2 linked regions of the Homo sapiens genome follow. The protein of the gene in region 2 interacts with the protein of the main gene of each other region in a pairwise test. Each region holds a gene or a part of one and is shown on either strand. Other genes may lie near its edges.

Evidence for each region.
Region 1: the proteins of OGDHL (region 2) and SLC13A1 interact in a protein complementation assay, tested with the Homo sapiens proteins (one large-scale study listed by BioGRID).

Annotation. Positions count from the first base shown.
Region 1 is NC_000007.14:123,193,404-123,197,226, forward strand, and holds part of SLC13A1 (solute carrier family 13 member 1), read right to left. Parts: intron 1-3,823. UniProt on the Homo sapiens protein: Sodium:sulfate symporter that mediates sulfate reabsorption in the kidney and small intestine. Can also mediate the transport of selenate and thiosulfate.
Region 2 is NC_000010.11:49,752,291-49,756,113, forward strand, and holds part of OGDHL (2-oxoglutarate dehydrogenase-like, mitochondrial), read right to left. Parts: intron 451-3,823; coding exon 348-450; intron 1-347.

The sequences.
Region 1 (3,823 bases), on a different chromosome or scaffold from region 2:
TGTGGCAAAAGTTCCAAAATCTCAGCAGTCTAAAACAGCCAATTATTTCTTACTTATACTATTTGTCCATCATGGGTAGAGGTTACTACGTGATCCAGGCTGAGAGAGGCATCACCTCAACCTGTGCTTTCGTGATTGCAAATGCAGGAACAATGACATAAGGCAATCTGAGCACAGCTTTTAAAGATCTGATATAAATATCATTAAATAAGCAATGACATCATGAGCTTGGAAGTCAGACAGATTTGTGTTTAAGTCCTCTTGCTCCCTTTGTGGACTGTGTGACTTTGATCACATTTCTTGACCTCTCTGAGTTTCTGTTCTGTAAAATTGGGATGATATTGACTATTTCTAATTGTCGCTATGAGGCTCACAGTGGGCATTCACATTTACTATTGTTACCAAACAAGGTATAAAACATATTATGGGAGGAAGAAAGAGCTTTGTGAAAGGGACAGCCTCTGGTTACACCTACATTCTTCTTGTTCTGTCCTTTCATCATTATTTTCACTCTATTGAAGTTCCCCTCTTTCATCAACCTCTTTCTCCTGCATTCTCTCCTTCCTATCAGGTCCAAAGCCTTACATCCTTCTGCCACGCTAGATCATCCTTCACTCAACACAGTTATTAACTATCTACTATGTGACAGGCACTGGGTTTGGTGCTGGAGGAGACAGAAATTTAAACACTATGCTCCATGTTCTTGAGATATTTACAGTCTGGAGGGAGACACAAAGATAAAGCAAAACGGAAGACATACTGTAATAGAGGCCAATGTATCCATGATGCAATGAGAGCATCGAGGATGATCCTTAGTTTACATCACAGCCTGAGCCTTCCTTCCCAAGAAGGGTGAGGTAAGAGGAGATGGCATTCTAGGAGGAGGATATAGCGTGTGAGAAGGCAGAGAGACAAGAATAATCACAGGCATTCTAGAAACTGCAAATAGTGAAGTATTGTTAAAGAGGAAAATGCAAATGTGGGAGATAGATACTGGGGACTGTGTGGTGGAGGCTTTTAGGACAAATAAATGAAAAGTCAGAAATATCCATCAGCAAAACCATCTTTTGTTTAGATATTTTTCCATTATAGGCAAAAAGGAACCATTGAAAAATTTTGATTTTTCACAATTGGACTGAGTTGGCATTTAAAAAATAGTACTCTGGCCAGAGACTGTAGGGGAAAGTGTGTAAAAAACAAACAGTCTATGAAAGAAAGAGAAAGACAGCTTCAAGGAAAGCAGTGCCAGCAGGAAAGGAAAGAGAGGAGAAGATGAGGTTGAGAGGGGAGATTTAGGAGGATTTAGATTAAGGAGATGCAACACCGTATTAGTGATGGGGGCTTGTGGATATTTGAAGCATCTGAGATGACATACAGCTTTCAAACCTGTGAATGGAGAGAAGGGTAGTGGCATTCTCTGACATAAAGAAAACAGAAGGAGCAGCAGGTTTTGGGCAAGTGGGACTGCATGCGGTTAGGGGAACAGAGGAGCTGGAAGATGATGAATCCTTAGTGGTTTATCCACTTTTTAATTACGCCTTCATAGCACAGATGATTTCTTTAAATTATTCGGCATGTGTTTAGGTACAACCTACTTTTGCCATTAATATTTGTCATACTATATAATGACTTTCCAGCAATTCTGCAAGCTACATAAAGACAGAAACATTAATTTAAACTTCTGCTTATATCACACAATTCATCTGGCACAACACTTTGGGCTGGGAAAGTTCTTGTAAAATATTTGTGAAATAAAAATATATTACCAAAATTGGATTTTCTGGTTTTGTCGAACTACCACATTGCTATTAGCATTATTTCTATTTTTTTCCTTGTTCTTCATCATTTCTGCATTCTTTGGTGTCCAAAATATTCACTTACTTGGACTTTATAGCATTTTCTTCTTTATCTTAAATCCCTACAATATTTTTATGCCAACATTTAAAACAGTATCAATTATTTCCATTAATATATTTAATTATTTTATTTGGCTCTTTAAAACTTATCTGTTTTCTTGGAATTTCTCTCCTCCCTCTTCTTTCACTTATAGTCTTTTTAAATTATCTCCTACTCATTTTCATTTTCTTTGACCAACTTCTCGACCTACCACTTCCTCCTTCTAGGGGATACTTCACTTTTTAAAGTTTATATTTCCTTACAATCATTATATTTCTCCCATCTGTTTATTTTATTTTTATATCTAGCACCATAAGTCTCTCATCATGTATCATTTTATTTATTATTATTTCTATTCTCACTTTGAAAGTCATCATGATTCAAGTGACTATATCGTGAGTTTCAAAGTTAGAATATAAAATATTTTCTAGAGAAATCCAAAATATTTTCTGAAGAAAGAATTAAAATTTGGTATCGGTTTTACAACCCATCAACTAAGAAATGCTGCTCAGTATATGTGTGGTTGTTTCCTTGTCTCCTGATCTTAAAAAGGGGTCCTGATTAATAAGTAAGCTAGATAGAATAGGTATACCTGGAAGAATTGCACTCTACAAATATAATATATTGTTGTTTGATTTTCCCCTCTTACTTCTAACAAATCTGGCCTTTTTGTTTCATGAATAAAAATACAAAGAAAATCCAATAACTGGAAAAATAAGTAAGGAAATAGTATTGACTGCTGAAAAGAGTAAAAATTAACAAAATAGCCTAAAAAGAACAAAGTTGCACATAGAATATTACTGAAACTATGTCAGTATATACTAGGCCAGTTTTACCAAGATTTTAACTGGAAATATTTAAAGAAATTTCTCTCCAAAATGAGAAAAACTCAGTGTGATTATTTCATTCAAATAAAAAGCAGTTACACTCCAGACTTGTTTACTGATCATTAACTACTAATTGGGTAAGGACTGAGATTACCATTATGTTTAAGAGACAGAAAGAATTTCTGATGCTCAGTGTAAATCAATAAGAAAATGGAATTGCATTAGCGAAGTGAGATTCACAGCAATGTACTAGGAATATATTTATTATGACCACGGAAGCTATAAAGACACAGATACTCAGTTGTGATTAACATCATTGGCTCTAGAGTCAGACAGAAGTTGGTTGGAAAAATCTGTGTAGCCAGATTTTTGCAAGCTGCTTACCTGTTTTTGTCTCTATTTCCAATTCGGACGCAAGTATGGAGAAAAGGGGCACCATATCCTGACAAGCTGACTGACCAGCTTAAAAAACTGGGGCTCTGGGACACCCAGCAAATGACATCCTTATAGCTTCAGTTCTCATAAGCCTATCTTCAGTGGTTAGAATCACTGCAACTTTCTACCTTAATGACATTGCGTACCATAAGGTCAATTGAGGAAATGGTTAAAACAGAACTCTTCTGTTTGGCCTGTCTAAAGCATTTTCATGAACAGAAATGCCTGTGTTGTTGACAAATGATGAACAAGCCATGAAAGAGTAAGTCTTCAAAAATATACAAAAGACTAAAACAAAATCACTTTTAAAGCATGAATTCTGAGTTCTGACAGGATCCAAGCTCAAATTTACTTTCTAGAGCATGTAGATGGCCTTTGGTGAGTTACATGTCTCTGAGCATCAATTCCCTCAAATGTAAAACGAGAAGCACATTTGTACTTGTTTATTCGTTTGTGATGGAGGTTAAATAAGATAATTTGGGGAAAGCAGTTGGCAGAATGCCTGAAACAGAAGAGTACTCTGCAAATCAGTCTATTCTCCGTCCCTGTTAATAGTACATTGAAAAACCAGTTAGGGTCTTTCTTCATTCATGGCACTTTTTTCACTTTAGATGGAATTAAGACATAAGTTAAGGCCAGTCTATTGAACAACTCAATAACAAGCA
Region 2 (3,823 bases):
GGGAGGGAGGTCAGGCCCAGGTGGAGCCCCGCAGTCTCACCAGACCTCCCAGTCTCCCCAGTGCCCTCCCTCTGGGTCCAACCTGGGGAGCAGAAGTGAGAGTGAGCCCAGGGAGGCAGGGTGGACAAGCCTCTCAGGCTTGAACACATGGGGCACAAGCTAGGGAAAGTGGCAGGCATCCTTCTCAGGAACAACAGGCAGTACACAGGCAAGGTAGAAAGGAGGCCCTGTGGGCTGCTCCCCGAGCTCCATGGATTCCCAAGGATCAGGCTGTCCCTAGTGCCCGTGGGCCCCTTACTGGGCCACCCACACAGCACTGCCATGGCCGTCCTGAGGAAGGGTCTTACCCAGTTTATCAATGGTTGTGATCAAGTCTGAGGGCACAAAGGAGTCCAGGTCTGCATCCAGAATGCCCAGGGGGTCCAGCTGGGCCACATGGTGACCCCGGATCTGGGAGGAGGGAAAAGAGCAGGGTGGGGCTGGGACCCAGCTGGACAGACCTCCTCCAGGGTAAGGCTCTGGGCCCCAGCCCCTCTCTTCCCATTCCCGAATGTTAAGCTTCCCCATGTCTCTGCCCCGCGGCTACTTCACTGCTGCCTGCGAGACCCCAGCCACAGCCAGTAAGGTGGCAGGAGCTCAACCTGGTTTGGAAGTACAACATGCACGGGCAAAAACAGGAAAAAGACCTATGCACAAAGGTGTTCACTGCGGTGCTACTAGTAATAGTGAAATTCTAGAAACTTCCCCACTGTCTATCAGCAGGAGACTGGCGCATGGATATGGGCGATCCACACAGCGGAGCACTCCAGAGCCATTAAAAGGAAGAAGAAAAATCCCCATCTGATACTACAAGGTAGTCTCTAAAAAATATTGTTAAGCAAAAAAGCAAATTCTAGCAAAGTATGTATGGTGAACTACACATTATCTAATAAAAAGGAGACACAAATAAATATATGCATTAGAAGGGAAAATCATAAAATTTAAAAAAACCACAACATAAGAAAAATTATCCTCTAGGGGAGGGGACAAAATAGGATAGAGAGGCAGGGCTAGGAGCCAGATTTTTAAGAAGTTATCTTACTTTGAAGATTTGACTTTCAAACCTTGTAAATATTTTACATTCTTATAAAACAAAATTAAGTCTTAAAAATTGAAAGTGAAATGAATCAAATGAATAAATATGTCCACTTAGTGGCATAAATACAGAGAGAAACCATTCCAATTGACTAATGGAACATTCCCTAAAGACAAACAGAAAAAAATTCATCAAGTCTTTTTTATTACCAGTCAGTCGTAATAGTGTTAGAATTGTTATGCTGGCTGGGCACAGTGGCTCACACCTGTAATCCTAGCACTTTGGGAGGCTAAGATGGGTGGATCACCTGAGGTCAAGAGTTCAAGACCAGCCTGACCAACATGGTGAAACCCCATCTCTACTAAAAATACAAAATTAGCTGGGCGTGGCGGCACATGCCTGTAATCCCAGCTACTTGGGAGGATGAGGCAGGAGAATCGCTTGAATCTGGGAAGTGGAGGCTGCAGTGAGCTGAGGTCGCACCACTGCGCTCTAGCCTGGGCTACAAGGAGAAACTCCATCTAAAAAAAAAAAAAAAAAAAAAAAAGAACTGTTATTCTAAGATTGTTGCATGTGAGCTCTGGGAAATCAAACAAGCCATTGTACTGGCATCTTTGAGAACCTCTATTTTTGACATCTCTAAAGGCAATGTTGCCATAAGATTGACAGGGTCAAGGACAAACCCCAAATCCCACATTTGTAGCACGTTAGAAGCATCAGTATAAACCCTTTCCTGGCTCTGATTCCTGAAAGGGCCCAGAAGTAATGATCAAACCAATAGCAGGAAACAGCCAGAGACCTGGACAGTTCTGGAATAGGCAGAAATGTACAAGCTGAGCTTGAAGCATCTTGTTATACCAACATCAAGGCAGTGTTCAAACACCACGAGTGCTGGGAATAAGGACAAGTTTTGAGCAACTATAAGGACAGTATACCTACAGCAGATTGAAACTCATCAAATATGTTTATATTCATGCATTCATATGAATCCAAAAAAAAGAAGATAAACTTTCATTAGTCACTTTTGGAGTGTGCTAGGGAATCACCTCATAATTTTGAAAATCACTGAATAAAAGAAAAAAATAAAGCAGTGATCCTGTCTTTCCTACACAATCTGCACCTCAGGATAAACAGAGTTAACAAACGGAAGTTTCTCCTGATAGTGGGACTTCAGTTAATAAAGAAGGCAAAACAGAATTGGCATATCACCATTTTTGCAACCCCTAGTGAGTTAATGGATCTAGGAAATCACTATCCACAGCTGCTAACTGCTCAAGTGCCATCACCATCACCACCAGGAAGCTGATTTTGAAAAAAAAAAAAATCAAATGTCTATGGGATCGAGCCTCTAGATCTAATTGTCAAAGTACAGAAATTACATGGGACAATGGGACAGATGAAATGACATCATGAGGAAGCCATCAGCAAAATCCAGACTTGGGAAAACCCTACAGGACAAACCACCTGGTTTTTCCACATCATAAAAAGAAACAGAGGGAACCTGCAAAGTACAAGAGACGTAAGAGCCACTTTAGCCTATTGCAACCTGTGGATTTAGCTGGATCCTGCTTCAAAGAAGCAGTAAAAAGAAAGCACAGGCTGGGTGCAATGGCTCACGCTGTAATCCCAGCACTTTGGGAGGCCAAGGCGGGCAGATCACTTGAGGTCAGGAATTCAAGACCAGCCTGGCCAACATGGTGAAACCCCGTCTCCACTGAAAACACAAAAATCAGCCAGGCGTGGTGGCAAGCACCTGTAATCCCAGCTACTCAGGAGGCTGAGCCAGGAGAATCACTTGACCACGTGGGGCAGAGGTTACAGTGAGTCGAGACTGCATCACTGCACTCCAGTCTGGGTGACAGAGTAAAACTCCATCTAAAAAGAAAAAAAGAAAGCACAGGACAAAAGGCAAACACAAATGTCAACTGCATATTTGATATTAGGCATTATTATGTTTAGATGCGATAATGGTATCATGGCACATTTTTTAAGAAGCCCTTTTCTCTAGACATACACAAAGAAATGTTCAATGAATGAAATGCTATATCTGGGATCTGCCTCAAGATAATCAGCAGTGAGCGGGGGCTAAGGGGGAAATTGATGAAACAAGGCTGGCCATGATTGATGGGTGGTGGGCTCACTGCACTATCCTTCTGCCTTTTATATGTTTGAAAATGCTTATAATAATACAGTGTTTTTTTTTCAGCACAGTGTGCAGGTGATTCTAACCACAGCTGTGCCTGCTACTCGCCTGTAAGGGGCTGCAGCCCTCCTGGTGGGAGCTCATCCACACCAGGCACAACAGAGTAACACACCTGAATCCAGAAGCCACCCTGCCAGGAAAACTCTCTAATGCCTCGTCTTGGTTAATCAAAGAACAAAGAGCTACTGAAGGGCTGAGATCTGTGCTTAGAAGATAAGGCCCTCGGGCAGCACCCTGAACGTTTCCCTGTATTTAATATACAGTTTTACATCCTTGTTCTTCATTTTTGAAGTCAAGGGTTAGATCACTGTCTGCTTCTTTCAGCCAGCCAGGAAAGACACAATACACAATAGCTGCTGTTTGCTCCTAGGTGGCCCACAATTGATGGGTCCTCAGGCCAGAAGGGAACCCAACCCTGCTCACCTTCCCTCTTCCATCCCCAGGTGGGTGGTGTACAGGGAACTCTGTTCCATCCCACAGATTGGGCAGCTCATTCAGAGGCAAAGCATCATTTCCATTTGCTAATGCCCCCCTGTACCCTAGCC